2 separate regions of the Homo sapiens genome follow, and region 2 is linked to region 1. A link means that fine-mapping ties the variant in region 1 to the expression of a gene that starts in the linked region. Tissue or cell type: whole blood. Region 1 holds a variant in brackets; the other region holds the start of a gene. All regions are shown on one strand. Distances are from middle to middle.

Region 1 (6,317 bases):
ATAATTTTCATTAAAATTTATATAACATATCTTGGTTTTTGTTCCATGTTTAAAACCCACATATGTAGGGTTTTATTAAACCTTTTTTTGTAAATTTTATTCTTTGCAAAAGTGGCTTTTTTTTTTTTTTTGAGACAGGGTCTCACTGTGTTATTCAGGCAAGAGTGCAGTGGTGCAGTCATGGCTCACTTCAGCCTCAACCTCCTGGGCTCAGGTGATACTCCTACCTCAGCCACCCAATTAGCTGCAACTACAGGTGTGTATGACCACACCTGGCTATTTTCTTGTATTTTTTGTAGAGAAGAGGTTTTGCCATGTTGCCCAGACTGGTCATGAACTCCTGGACTTGATCAAGCCACCTCAGCCTTTCAAAGTGCTGAGATTACAGGCGTGAGCCACCATGCTAAACCAGCTGACATTTTTTTTCTAAGATTTCTTTTTACCTCAATTATATTAGTAATATTTGACACCAGGCGCAGTGGCTCACACCTGTAATCGCAGCACTTTGGGAGGCTGAGGCAGGTGGATCACAAGGTCAGGAGATTGAGACCATCCTGGCCAACACGGTGAAACCCCGTCTCTACTAAAAATACAAAAAAAACAATTAGCTGGGCGTGGTGGCGGGCGCCTGTAGTTCCAGCTACTTGGGAGACTGAGGCAGGAGAATGGCATGAACCCGGGAGGCGGAGCTTGCAGTGAGCCAAGATTGGGCCACTGCGCTCCAGCCTGGGAGACAGAGCGAGACTGTCTCACAAAAAAAAAAAAAAAAAAAAAAATTTGACTTACAATTTTATGTTAAAATTAAGTGCTGGTCAGTCAGTGGTCAAAATGTTTGGTTTGCCCCTTTGTGATTTTTCAAATATTATTAATTTTTCTTTTTAAAATTAATTAATTTTTTGAGACAGAGTCACACTCTGTTGCCCAGGCTGGGGTGCAGTAGCGCGATGTCAGCTCACTGCAACCTCCACCTCTTGGGTTCAAGTGATTCTCTTGCCTCAGCCTCCTGAATAGCTGGGACCACAGGCCTGAACCACTGCAGTAGTTTTTGTAGAGACAGGGTTTCGCCATGTTGGCCAGGCTGGTGTCAAACTCCTAGCCTCAAGTCATCCACCTGCCTCAGCCTCCCAAAGTGCTGGGATTTCAGGCGTGATCCATTGCTCTCAGCCATGTAAATTTTTATGTGAACATAATTTATTTCTGGATCAAAAGGTATAGGGATTTTCTACATTTCATGCTATATGGGGTTCCATAAGAGAAAAGAGTTGATTTGTCATCATATTTTAATGTTTCTTCCAGCATCAAAACCTAATTTTGGAGGATTTACTTTTTTTTTTTTTAAATGAGTTAAATTAAGAATTTTTTTCCTACGGAAGTTTTGTATTTTTGTCAATATTAAATGTTTTTGAGTGTATATTAAGACTTCAGATTTTCAAACGAAGATTTTCTTTTTTAACCTTCCAATTTGCATGACTCAATGGTCTTGCTTTTTGACATTTTTAATAATTAAGTATAATTGAAAGGAATGCATTGCATTATAATGCAAATTTGATAATTAACACTTTAGTTACCATAAAATTACTTTTTAATACCTTATTTTAGGGGGAAGGTAGTAAATCTTCTGGAAGGTATAAAAAAAACCTATCCTAGTATCATGTTGGAGGATTTAACTCCATTAATATCTTTATTCCTTTATTTTTATTTGATTTTTGCTTATTTTTGAATTTTTACTATTTTTTTCCTAAAGATTCTTTTTTCTTTTTTTTTTTTTTTTTTGAGACGGAGTCTTGCTCTGTCACCCAGGCTGGAGTGCAGTGGCACAGTCTCACTCAAGCTCACTGCAAGCTCTGCCTCCCAGGTTCACGCCATTCTCCTGCCTCAGCCTCCCGAGTTGCTGGGACTACAGGCACCTGCCACCACACCCGGCTAATTTTTTGTATTTTTAGTAGAGGCGGGGTTTCACCATGTTAGCCAGGATGGTCTCGATCTCCTGACCTCGTGATCCGCCCGCCTCGGCCTCCCAAAGTGCTGGGATTACAGGCGTGAGCCACCGCGCCCAGCCAAAGATTCAAATTTTTAAGATGACCTATGAAGCTCTCTGTGATCTTCCTCTGAAACCTTGTCAGCTTTATCTCATGTTCACTTTACTTACAAGCCATAGCCACACAGCCTAATTTTTATTTCTCAGCTTTCAAATGTGCTCATTCTCTTAACATTATCCTTTTGACCTCGTGATATTTAAAGGGGAAGACTTCTCTAATGTTGTAGATGAGATTAGAATCTCCTTGTTATACAGTATCACAGCCCTTATGTTTACTCTTTGGCACTCATGACAAGTGCCATTTTATTCTTGCAATAGAGTCATGTCTTACTTGAAAATTAGGTTGTAAAGTTAGTATGTAAAGCAGAAATTACATTCTCCCTCGAAGTGTTTCATTCACTCCCTCGAAGTGTTTAATCTCCCTCAAAGTGTTTAGTTTTTGTTTGTGCAGTCTTATAACAGGTATGGTTAATATAATTTGTGTAGTAATATACAATATTTGCTAGGGTTCAGACGTGAAATGTAACATTTTAGATCAAAGAATGAAACATGTTTGTTTTACAGATTTCTGTTTTTAAGTATGCATGTGATACAGGTCTGTCATGTATTTGTGATTATTTGATTATGTTTTCTCTACTAGACTATAAATGCAGTCAGCTCAGGGACTGTCCTTACTTTGTTCACTGTTGATTTAGTAATAATTATAGTATCATAATAAATAACAATATAATAATATAGTAATGCTCCTGTAATTTAGTAATAACATACCTGACTCGCTCTCAAATATTTTAAAAGTAATTAACCAAGAATATCGCAAAAATGAAGAGTAAATTGTGCTGAAAGGAAAAGGGTGTATAATTAATTTCCTATTTTATTCTCAAGTCTATGTTTTTTAATATAAAGACTAATAACCCTAAATTTTTAAATGTATTTCTTGTGAGTAAAAGTTAATGACTACTTTTTTCTTCTTCTTTTTTTTTTTCTTCTAGGAGGGTATACAAGGAAAGGTTAGGACTTCCTCCAAAGATAGTGATTGGTTATCAGTCCCACGCAGACACAGCTACTAAGAGCGGCTCCACCACTAAAAATAGGTTTGTTGTTTAAGAAGACACCTTCTGAGTATTCTCATAGGAGACTGCGTCAAGCAATCGAGATTTGGGAGCTGAACCAAAGCCTCTTCAAAAAGCAGAGTGGACTGCATTTAAATTTGATTTCCATCTTAATGTTACTCAGATATAAGAGAAGTCTCATTCGCCTTTGTCTTGTACTTCTGTGTTCATTTTTTTTTTTTTTTTT[G/TG]GCTAGAGTTTCCACTATCCCAATCAAAGAATTACAGTACACATCCCCAGAATCCATAAATGTGTTCCTGGCCCACTCTGTAATAGTTCAGTAGAATTACCATTAATTACATACAGATTTTACCTATCCACAATAGTCAGAAAACAACTTGGCATTTCTATACTTTACAGGAAAAAAAATTCTGTTGTTCCATTTTATGCAGAAGCATATTTTGCTGGTTTGAAAGATTATGATGCATACAGTTTTCTAGCAATTTTCTTTGTTTCTTTTTACAGCATTGTCTTTGCTGTACTCTTGCTGATGGCTGCTAGATTTTAATTTATTTGTTTCCCTACTTGATAATATTAGTGATTCTGATTTCAGTTTTTCATTTGTTTTGCTTTTGTTTTTTTCCTCATGTAACATTGGTGAAGGATCCAGGAATATGACACAAAGGTGGAATAAACATTAATTTTGTGCATTCTTTGGTAATTTTTTTTGTTTTTTGTAACTACAAAGCTTTGCTACAAATTTATGCATTTCATTCAAATCAGTGATCTATGTTTGTGTGATTTCCTAAACATAATTGTGGATTATAAAAAATGTAACATCATAATTACATTCCTAACTAGAATTAGTATGTCTGTTTTTGTATCTTTATGCTGTATTTTAACACTTTGTATTACTTAGGTTATTTTGCTTTGGTTAAAAATGGCTCAAGTAGAAAAGCAGTCCCATTCATATTAAGACAGTGTACAAAACTGTAAATAAAATGTGTACAGTGAATTGTCTTTTAGACAACTAGATTTGTCCTTTTATTTCTCCATCTTTATAGAAGGAATTTGTACTTCTTATTGCAAGGCAGTCTCTATATTATGTCTTCTTTTGTGGTGTCTTCCATGTGAACAGCATAAGTTTGGAGCACTAGTTTGATTATTATGTTTATTACAATTTTTAATAAATTGAATAGGTAGTATCATATATATGGAATTAAATTGATGTGGCTATCTTTGTTTTTTTATAAAGTAAGGCACAGTCATTCAGTCTTAGGTAAATAATGTACTCTCTTAATATGTTAATACTCATGAGAATTGGGATCTGATGCATCACCATTTGATTGGTAGCAACAGTGGTTGTAAAACTTGGTTGCTGAATTGAGTTGTTTCTATGTTAAGTGTCAAAATGATAGTGTAGGGAAAGTACAGGTGGTGGGGACATATGCATTAAGAATCTTGTTAGTGTTGCAATCTAAATAGAATGGAATAAACAGGTGTTAAGACATATTTATAGTGGTAAATTGTTGTAGTATGGTATTCTGTAAACTTGAAAACTTGATCTACTCTTTGTAGGTATCATTTGAAAGCAAACTTGAAAATGTTTTGTACATAGTACATACTTGTATAGTCCTGTGAGATGAAGTATGGCTATCAGACCAAAGGATAAGCCAAACTGTAGGTAGCAGAATGGAAATTATTATTTTGAGAGGAAAATTTGTCTTTGAATGGTGATTATGACTTAATCATTTTAAAACTGATAAACTTGACAAAAACCCTGTATGAAATAAACATGAAATTAATAGCACTGATTTCATTGTAAAATTTTAAAGCAGTTTAAAGGGTACCACAGGTTATCACAGTACTCTCAATGCCACAAACACCTCTTGTTCAGTATTCTAGAAATACTGAATCAGAATTCTGTGTTTATTATAATCTCAGCATACTGTACATAATATCTGCTAGTTAAACTTGGGTAATTGGTTAAGGTGACTTACTGTCTATGTCAATATGTATAGTTTTGAGTACTTCAAGAGTTTACTTAAAAGTGATGATGTTACTGGTATGTTGGCAGTGGGTGGGACTGAAGTAGTGTATCTATTATAAATTGATCTATTTTCTTAATTCTAAGATGAAGTCCAATTTTAAGCATCAGCTTTTAGGTGCAAAGGAGGAATTAACACATTAAATGTATACAGTTCTAAATTTTTGAAATAACTGATGTGTAGCATTTGATTATTGGTATTACCATTTTAGAATCATGATGTTATTTTAAACCTTTTTCCTGGGGACAAGAAAGGATAATAAATTACGCTGAATCACTTTTGGCAGTTGCCACTTAAATAGTACAGTGACTTGCAACTTTTATAACTTTATCAGCATCTTCTCTAAATACAAAATTAGGCTATATGTTATTTTCCAACTTACTGTTTTCTCTCTGTTTAGCAGGATATTATAAATAGATTAAATAGATATATTTTCTTTTTTTTTTTTTTTTTTTGAGACGGAGTCTCGCTTTGTCTCCCAGGCTGGAGTGCAGTGGCGTGATCTCCCAGTAGCTGGGACTACAAGCACCTGCCACCATGCCCGGCTAATTTTTTTTGTATTTTTAGTAGAGACGGGGTTTCACTGTGTTAGCCAAGATGGTCTCAATCTCCTGACTTTGTGATCTGCCTGCTTCTGCCTCCCAAAGTGCTGGGATTACAGGTGTGAGCCACCGTACCCAGCCCAAATAGATGTATTTTCATAATAGAGAATTGAAATAGGCTTTAATGGGTGAATAGCAGTTTATTGTAGGCATGTGACATTTCATTTAATGAATTTAAAGTTTATTATCCCAATTCTACAGAAGGATTTAATGCATACTATGCAATTAAATAATTATAACACTACATAGTAATAATTTATGTGCCAGGCAGTAGTTCAGTCACTTTACATGCTTATTAACCTGCAGAATAATCTTTTGAGATGTAGGTGCTGTTACTGAGAATTTAACTTTTGCTTGTAAATTGCAAAGGGTGGATTTGAATTCTGGAAATTTGGTTCCAGAGACAATAATTACATAACACTTTCTCCATAGGGTACAGCCTGTCTAATAGGCTATAGTAAATCACCTCAGCTTGTTATAGGTCGGGCATGCAAACATTTCTCCATTTTACTCCCTTTGGTAATGAATCTAGTAATAGATGGAAATTTTCCCTAGATTCACTGTGTTAGTCAGTTGGGGAAGT
Region 2 (7,270 bases), 47 kb before region 1:
GATCTCCTGACCTCGTGATCCGCCCGTCTTGGCCTCCCAAAGTGCTGGGATTACAGGCATGAGCCACCGTGCCCGGCCCGAGTTTTTTGATTAACAGAAAATTTAATAAAAATGGAAACTGTTGTTTAAAAAAAGTTTTAAGAACATCACTGGCTTTCAGTCCTATAGGTATTTTCTTGCCAATCTCATTGATTTTTTGCTGTTATATAACAGCTTCATGAAAATAGGACATCTGGCCAGGAATGGTGGCTCATGCCTGCAATCTCAGCACTTTGGGAGGCCCAGGTAGGGGGACCGCTTGAGCCCAGGAGTTTGAGACCAGCCTGGGGAACATAGCTAGACGCTCCTGTCTCTGCAAAATATAAAAAAATTAGCTAGGCATGGTGGCCCATGCCTGTAGTCCTAGCTACTTGGGAAGCTAAGGTGGGAGGACCCCTTGAACCCAGAAGGTCAAGGCTGCAGTGAGCCATAATCATGCCACTGCACTCCAGCCTGGGTAACAGAGCAACACCCTGAAAAGACAAAAAGAAAGGAAGGAAGGAAGGAAGGAAGGAAGGAAGGAAGGAAGAGAGAGAGAGAGAGAGAATGGGAGGGGAGGGGAGGGAGGGGAGGGGAGGACAGGGGAGGGGAGGGGAAGAGAAGGGAAGGGAAGGGAGGGGAAGGGTAGGGAAGGGAGAGGAAGGGTGGGGAAGGGTGGGGAAGGGGAAAATAGGACATCTATGCTGTCTTTTTCTCTTCAAAGAAGGTAACCTGACACCACTTCTAACCAGCAGAAAATAACAACGCGGTCAACAGAATTATTTTGGATAGTCTAAGTAACAGTAGATAGTCTCTGTAAGTAGAAATCCACTTATCCGTTTATTATCATTTTTTTTTTTTTTTTGGAAATGGAGTCTCACTGTGTCGCCCAGACTGGAGTGCAGTGGCGGGATCTTGGCTCACTGCAACCTCCACCTCCCAGGTTCAAGTGATTCTCCTGCCTCAGCCTCCTGAGTAGCTGAGACTACAGGCAGGTGCCACTATGCCTGGCTAATTTTTGTATTTTTAGTAGAGACAGGGTTTCACCATGTTGGTCAGGCTGGTCTCGAACTCCTGACCTCAGGTGATCCGCCCGCCTTGGCCTCCCAAAGGGCTGTGATTACAGGCGTGGGCCACTGCGCCTGGCCTGTTAATTCTATCTACTTTAAAACCTAGTAGAGCTAAGCCCACTAGACAAAAGCTTTCATTAATCACTTCTGATATTCAGGTAAACCAAAACATATGAACAGGCAATGGCTTTGAGTTCTCATACAGCCTCAATTATGTGTTAGTCAACTCAAGCATCCATTATGTACTCAATAATAGGTATGACACAGCTCTGGACCTCATTAACACTATAAGCAGACAGGCACAGGCAGCCTGCATACACTCCTTTTCCTGGTGTCAACATTATTTAAAAGCATGGGAAATAGTAATGAGACAGTGTCTTCTTCATTAGAACCTTAGGAGTCTACTAGATTTCTTCATCTCTATTTGTTGTTATTAGTAGCCAAACTGTGCAAAAAACACGGTCTTGAGAAATGACAGCACAGTATCTTAGAGGGAAAGGAAATGTAGGATGCCAGTGTGGGGACAAATTTCTGATTGCCAGTGATTGTTGTGAGCATAACAATAATTTCATGAACATTAAAGCCTCTATTGAGGGCAGCTGCAGTTGTAAAGGAAAAAAAATGGTCCTGAACATTTAAAACTACACTGGTGTACATCATAATCAAACAAAGTAAACAGAAAAAAATTTAAACTTTGCTAAAAAAAAAAAGCAGAAGCACTTGATCTTTAGGAAGGCACGCAGTTGCTTATTATGAATCATTTCTAGAGTCCGATGCATTTTCAAAGCCGGTTACAGTCATTACGAAGCACACCCTTGTGAGGTAAGTGTATCATCACCTTTGGTTCATAAATAAAAAAGCTGAGACGCCGAGCGATTAAGTCACTCGCCTAAGGAGAATGAGTCAACGTCAAGAGTCATAGTTGACCCGGCCTAAAGACTCCAGACCATCAGTCCAGGGCTTAGTCAGCGGGGCCCGGAGTGGCTTCCCTGGCTGGCATCTGGACTTAGGCTATTTCCGTGCACGTAAAAGCGGAATATTGGAACGGTTGCACAGAACTTCCAAATAATTTTTACCGCCACGCAAGATTTAGCCCTGAGGTCTTAATCTCAGGATTTGGGACAGTAAAAGCTGTCGTCCCTCCCCCTCGTCCAGCCGGTGGCAAGCGGGTACTGCGGGCGGTTCCGTCCGTCCCCTTTCGCAGAAATGGCAACGAATGACCACCAGCATTAGCTGAGCCAGGGGACGTGGGAGGGTTGATTGCCTAAACGACTCTGCATCGCCGCCTCTTTTTGAAACTAAGAGAAAATGGTGGGAGATCAAAAGAAAACTAAATAAACACACAGGCAACTTGTCCTGGGACCTCAACTAAGCAAATGAAGCCTTATTGTGTGTGCTGAGCCTGCAGTTCCCAACCTTCCGGGGAAGATGGGAGGACAGGGCGACAAAGGGCACAGTAGGCTTGCCTGGCAGTAAGTGTGACCGCAGCTATCCAGGCGGAAGAGCAGAGGACTGAAACCACCCTCCAGCAAGCGAGTGTCCGCCGCGTTGAGAACCGCGCACCCTACCCATCGGCCACGTGACCAGTCCTTTTTAAAAAAAATTTCTTTACCTTAAAAAAAAAAAAAAAAAAAAGGTGGGGGAGAGACTCCACTTCCCAGAAGCCTCTCGTTACTCACGCAGCCGCAGTCTTGCGCAGGTGCCGCCAGGGCCAAACGGACATATCCGTCACGTGGCCAGAAGCTGGCCAATCCGGTTTGAATCTCATTTTTTTCCTCTTACCCCCCCTTCTGGAGCGGTTGTGCGATCAGATCGATCTAAGATGGCGACTGTCGAACCGGTGAGTATTGCCTTTGGCCCCCACCCCCACGGGTCCCCGCGCTCCGTCTTCCTTCTGACTGGGGGACTCCGCGGGACGGCGTTCCCGGCGCGCACTGTACCCCTTGCCGCCCCTTCCCCTTCATGTTGGACCTGACCTCCCGCGGACAAGTGGGGACGTCCCGGAGGATGGCCGAGGCGGCGTGTAGCGCACACTTTCTGGTGGGGGCCCGAGAACTGGGGGAGCGGTGTGGGGGAGGGGCGGCGTGGCGCCTCCTGCGGAACCGCGAGGTGTCTACAGGGTGGAGGGTAGCTGGGGTTCTGGGCTGGGTATGCGAGGATGGTGTCTTCATGATAGGAAGGCGCAGGGCCGGCTCCCAGCGAGTACTGGGATCCGCAGGCAGGGTGGGCGGCGAGCCGGCCTGGAGTGAGATGGAGGAGGGAGCCCTGGAGCAGCCTTTCCCTCCCTGCAGAACCCCAGCTCCGGGGCTCGGGTGCGGGGCGCGCGCACGTCTTCCTTAGACCGGTGGACTGGGGAGCTGGTGGGCGAGTGTTGCCGGAGGGTGGGTTAGGCGGGAGTGGTGCCGCGGCACGCGCGGAGGAGCTTCGACCTCGCTTAGGGGAGTTGAGAGGGGCGAGCGTCTGTTAATCCAGCGCGCCGGAGAGTTGCCGGTGTTTGCGCCAGGGGAAGCGAGAAAGGTCTGGGGTGGGAAGGAACACTCGTGTGTCACGGTGAAGCTCTCCAAGTAGAATGAGGGATGGTGGTGGTGAGAAGGGGTATCACATTGTCCTCGCCCCTCCATGCTTGGGACTGGGCTGTCATGGAGGAGGGAAGGGGGAGGAGCGAGGCCTACAGATCGCTGTAGCCGGTCGGCTTGCCGGCCGGACCTGCTGCATTTCACACGCGCCCGTCTTCCATTCATTCATCCTTTCCGCGTAGTGCGCACGCCTCAGAGAATGCGAATGGGTCTCAATCCCTCTGTTCTTCCGAGTCTTTATCTCCTGGAAGATTTCTGAGACGCAGTTTATTGGAAATAGAAACTTTTAAATTTACTTTTCCATTTGACTTTTTTTTTCTCTTTATCTATGCTACAGACTTTCATTTCAATTTAGGCACCATTTTAAACTTAACTGAAGCAAGCTGGTCCCAGGGTAGGTTTGTAGTTAATCTTTAAGCAGAGGGTATATTTTTCATAATTTGGGTTTGCCAGGACTGGCTCACTGAAACTTCTGGGCCCTGTTGCCTTTTTAGAAACGACACAGCTAAGTGAAGATATCTTGTGTGCATAATGGGGTTTATTAGCAATCAGAAAACCTTTCACACTCTGGAACCAGCTCTAGACCTTGGTTGCCAGATACTTTTGTGTATCTTTTCATGGTAGCTTGTGGTTTTGCTAATGGTTTACCAGTTTGCTTTGACTTTTAAAGACTTTTTTTTTTTTTTTTTTTTTTTTTTTTTTTTGAGATGGAGTCTTGCTTTGTCGCCCAGGCTGGAGTGCAGTGGCGTGATCTCGGCTCACTGCAACCTCCGCCTCCGGGTTCAAGCGATTCTCCTGCTTCAGCCTCTTGAGTAGCTGGGATTACAGGTGCGCACAACCGTGCCTGGCTAATTTTTGTATTTTTAGTAGAGACGGGGTTCCACCATGTTGGCCAGGCTGGTCTGAAACTCCTGACCTCAAGTGATCCTCCCGCCTCAGCCTCCCAAAGTGCTGGGATTACAGGCGTGAGCCACAGCACCCGGCACTTTTAAAGACTTTTATAAAACTATTTCAAAAACTCTTATAGACTACACAAAGGCTTATTTTTCATTGCGTTGGTGTAAACTATCCTTACCTTGTCAAAATTCAAGGCAGCTTCTCTGCTTGCTTACTTGTTTTTTTATTGGCACCAGTTTTCATTTATGTTCCTGGGAATTAAATTGACTGAAAAACTCATAAGTTGTTGCTACAGTTAACTGACTTTAGGACATTAATATTACATAACACTAATGAAGAATAAGTATGTAAAATATACATTTTAAACCCCTTGACAGGTTCTGATGTCCACTTTTGTCTAGATCTGTTCCTACCCCACTACACTAGTGTCAGTAAAAAGCATTACATCTGGTAATAGGGGCAAGGCTACGAGACTGTAAACTATAAAACAATAAGGAGTTCTGTGAGGTTTCTGTCACATTTAGGTCCCTTGAGTTTTGCAGAGTTTATGCAGTTTTGTTTCAGCAGCACAGAGCGGAACTGCAAAGTGATGAAGGACTATATTTTGAGTTAGTAAATATTAATAGCTCCTGATATATCCAGGGTGTTGTACCAAGTGTTCTTTAGGATACAAAGTTATACAAGATGTGAGTCTTGTTGAATGTAAACCCTTAAGGAACTTAATTCCTAGGGATGTGGTTAGTGATACAGTATTTGTTCTGGTACAGACTTTGGGAGATTTGGATGTTATGTTTAAATTTGGGGAGTAGGGGAACCTAAAAACAAAGTGTGTGAAGCTGGAAACTAAAGTATTTTGAGAATATATGTAAAATAGTATCGAAGTGTTTAGTTTTAGTGAGAAATGAATTTTTTTTTTTTCGATACTGACTTTCACTCTTGTTGCCCAGGCTGGAGTGCAATGGCGCGATCTTGGCTCACCGCAACCTCCGCCTCCTGGGTTCAATCGATTCTCCTGCCTCAGCCTTCCGAGTAGCTGGGATTACAGGCATGTGCCACCACGCCCGGCTAATTTTGTACTTTTAGTAGAGATGGGGTTTCTCCATGTTGGTCAGGCTGGTCTTCAACTCCCGACCTCAGGTGATCCGCCCGTCTTGGCCTCCCAAAGTGGTGGGATTACAGGCATGAGCCACCGCGCCTGGCCTGAAAATTTTTAGTACTTTTAATATACCCTTGTGCACAGGCTAGTTATGTGGAATTATTTTTGACAGTTTTAAATAGTTGGATTTTGTGTGTAGGGGTGCAGGATCTTGCTCTGTTGCTGGGGCTGGAGTGCAGTGGCGCGATCATAGCTCACTGCAGCCTCAAACTCCTGGGCTCAAGAGATGCTTCCATCTCAGCCTCTGGTGTAGCAAGCACTACAGGAGCAGGCCACCACGCCCGGATAATTTTTAAACTTTTTGTAGAGATGGAATCTCGCGATGGTTACCCAGGCTGGTCTCAAACTCCTGGACTCAAGTGGTCCTCCCACCTTGGCCTCTCAATATGTTGGGTTACAGGCGTGAGCCACCGAGCCTCGCCTGGATTTTTTTTTGAAGCAACTGATTAGAATTGGATTGTACTTGAGATACCCCTGCTGAAGGCTGCAAAAATCATGTTTTTTCTTACTTCAGCTAGTTTGTGAGCTTCCATAATGGTTTTCTGCTGTGCATAATCATAAACACTTAAAAAGAGCCATGGGCTTTTCCTGCTTATCCCATCATGCATAGGTATCTGGATGATTTTTGTCTATGGACATTACATAAAATATCATTTTCAGTTTGATATTATTGTGTGGTTTTCTCTTTGTATGAGTTGAGTTACATGAAGATGTGGCCCACAAATATTAAATTTGTTGAGAAGCTTGAAAGGGAAAATTAAGGGAAACATTTTACCTCTTAACGGATAATTTGGCAAAAATTTGAACGTTAGGGCAAACGGTACTCTGATGTTATTCTATCGGCATTTGAATTGTGGCTGGGTCAAAATTAGGTTTAATATTAGTCTGTGAAAATGGCAAGGCCATCTTACCTCCAGTAGGTCGTGTTTCTTTGTAGCTTTATCTTCATTCTACATCGTTCATTATTAGAATTAAAAAAATTTTTTTTTGACTTGTAGTTCCTTTTGAGGTAAGAGATTAATTTTGATTTCTTTAGCTTAACTGAAAGTGTATAATTTTACTTGTTTTTACATTGTAGCTCTTGAATTTTTTGAAACCACGCTAATTTCATAAGTGAATCAACTTGGACAATCAGCTAATTTAATGCTTCCTTTTTTATACTTTGGAAACATGCTCTGTACTACACAGCTTATTAATAAGAGTAAATAAGGTTTATATACATATTGACAAATATTTGTTGTACTATATAATTCATATTAATGAACAATTGAATGCCAACCAGACTATGCAAATTAGTGGACTTTTTGCTTAATGAAAGAACCCACTATATCAGAGTTCCTCGATAATCCACGTAAATTTGGCTCTGGGGTTCATATTCCAGATTTCTTCAATTAAAAGAAAAAAATATACTTGCTGAGTGCGGTGGCTCACGCCTGTAATCTCAGCACTTTGGGAGGCCGAGGCGGGTGGGGATCACTTGAGGTCAGGTGTTCGAGACCAGCCTGGCCAAAATGGTGAAACCCTGTCTCTACTAAAAATACAAAAATTAGCCA

Evidence for each region. PIP is the estimated chance that this variant, and not a neighbour inherited with it, causes the effect.
Region 2: it holds the start of EIF4E, and the variant in region 1 is fine-mapped to the expression of EIF4E in whole blood (INTERVAL, PIP above 0.99).

The regions. Positions count from the first base shown.
Region 1 is chr4:98,877,853-98,884,169 of GRCh38, reverse strand. It overlaps EIF4E (eukaryotic translation initiation factor 4E), which reads left to right. Exons shown (of 7, transcript NM_001968.5): 7 at 3,028-4,894. The coding sequence ends at 3,142. Among named protein-coding and RNA genes, the nearest start is that of EIF4E, 48 kb to the left of the region's middle. The variant G/TG (reference allele first, on the strand shown) is at 3,335.
Region 2 is chr4:98,924,753-98,932,022 of GRCh38, reverse strand. EIF4E (eukaryotic translation initiation factor 4E) reads left to right here and starts at 2,890. Exons shown (of 7, transcript NM_001968.5): 1 at 2,890-2,928. The coding sequence starts at 2,911. RefSeq lists an enhancer at 1,297-2,496.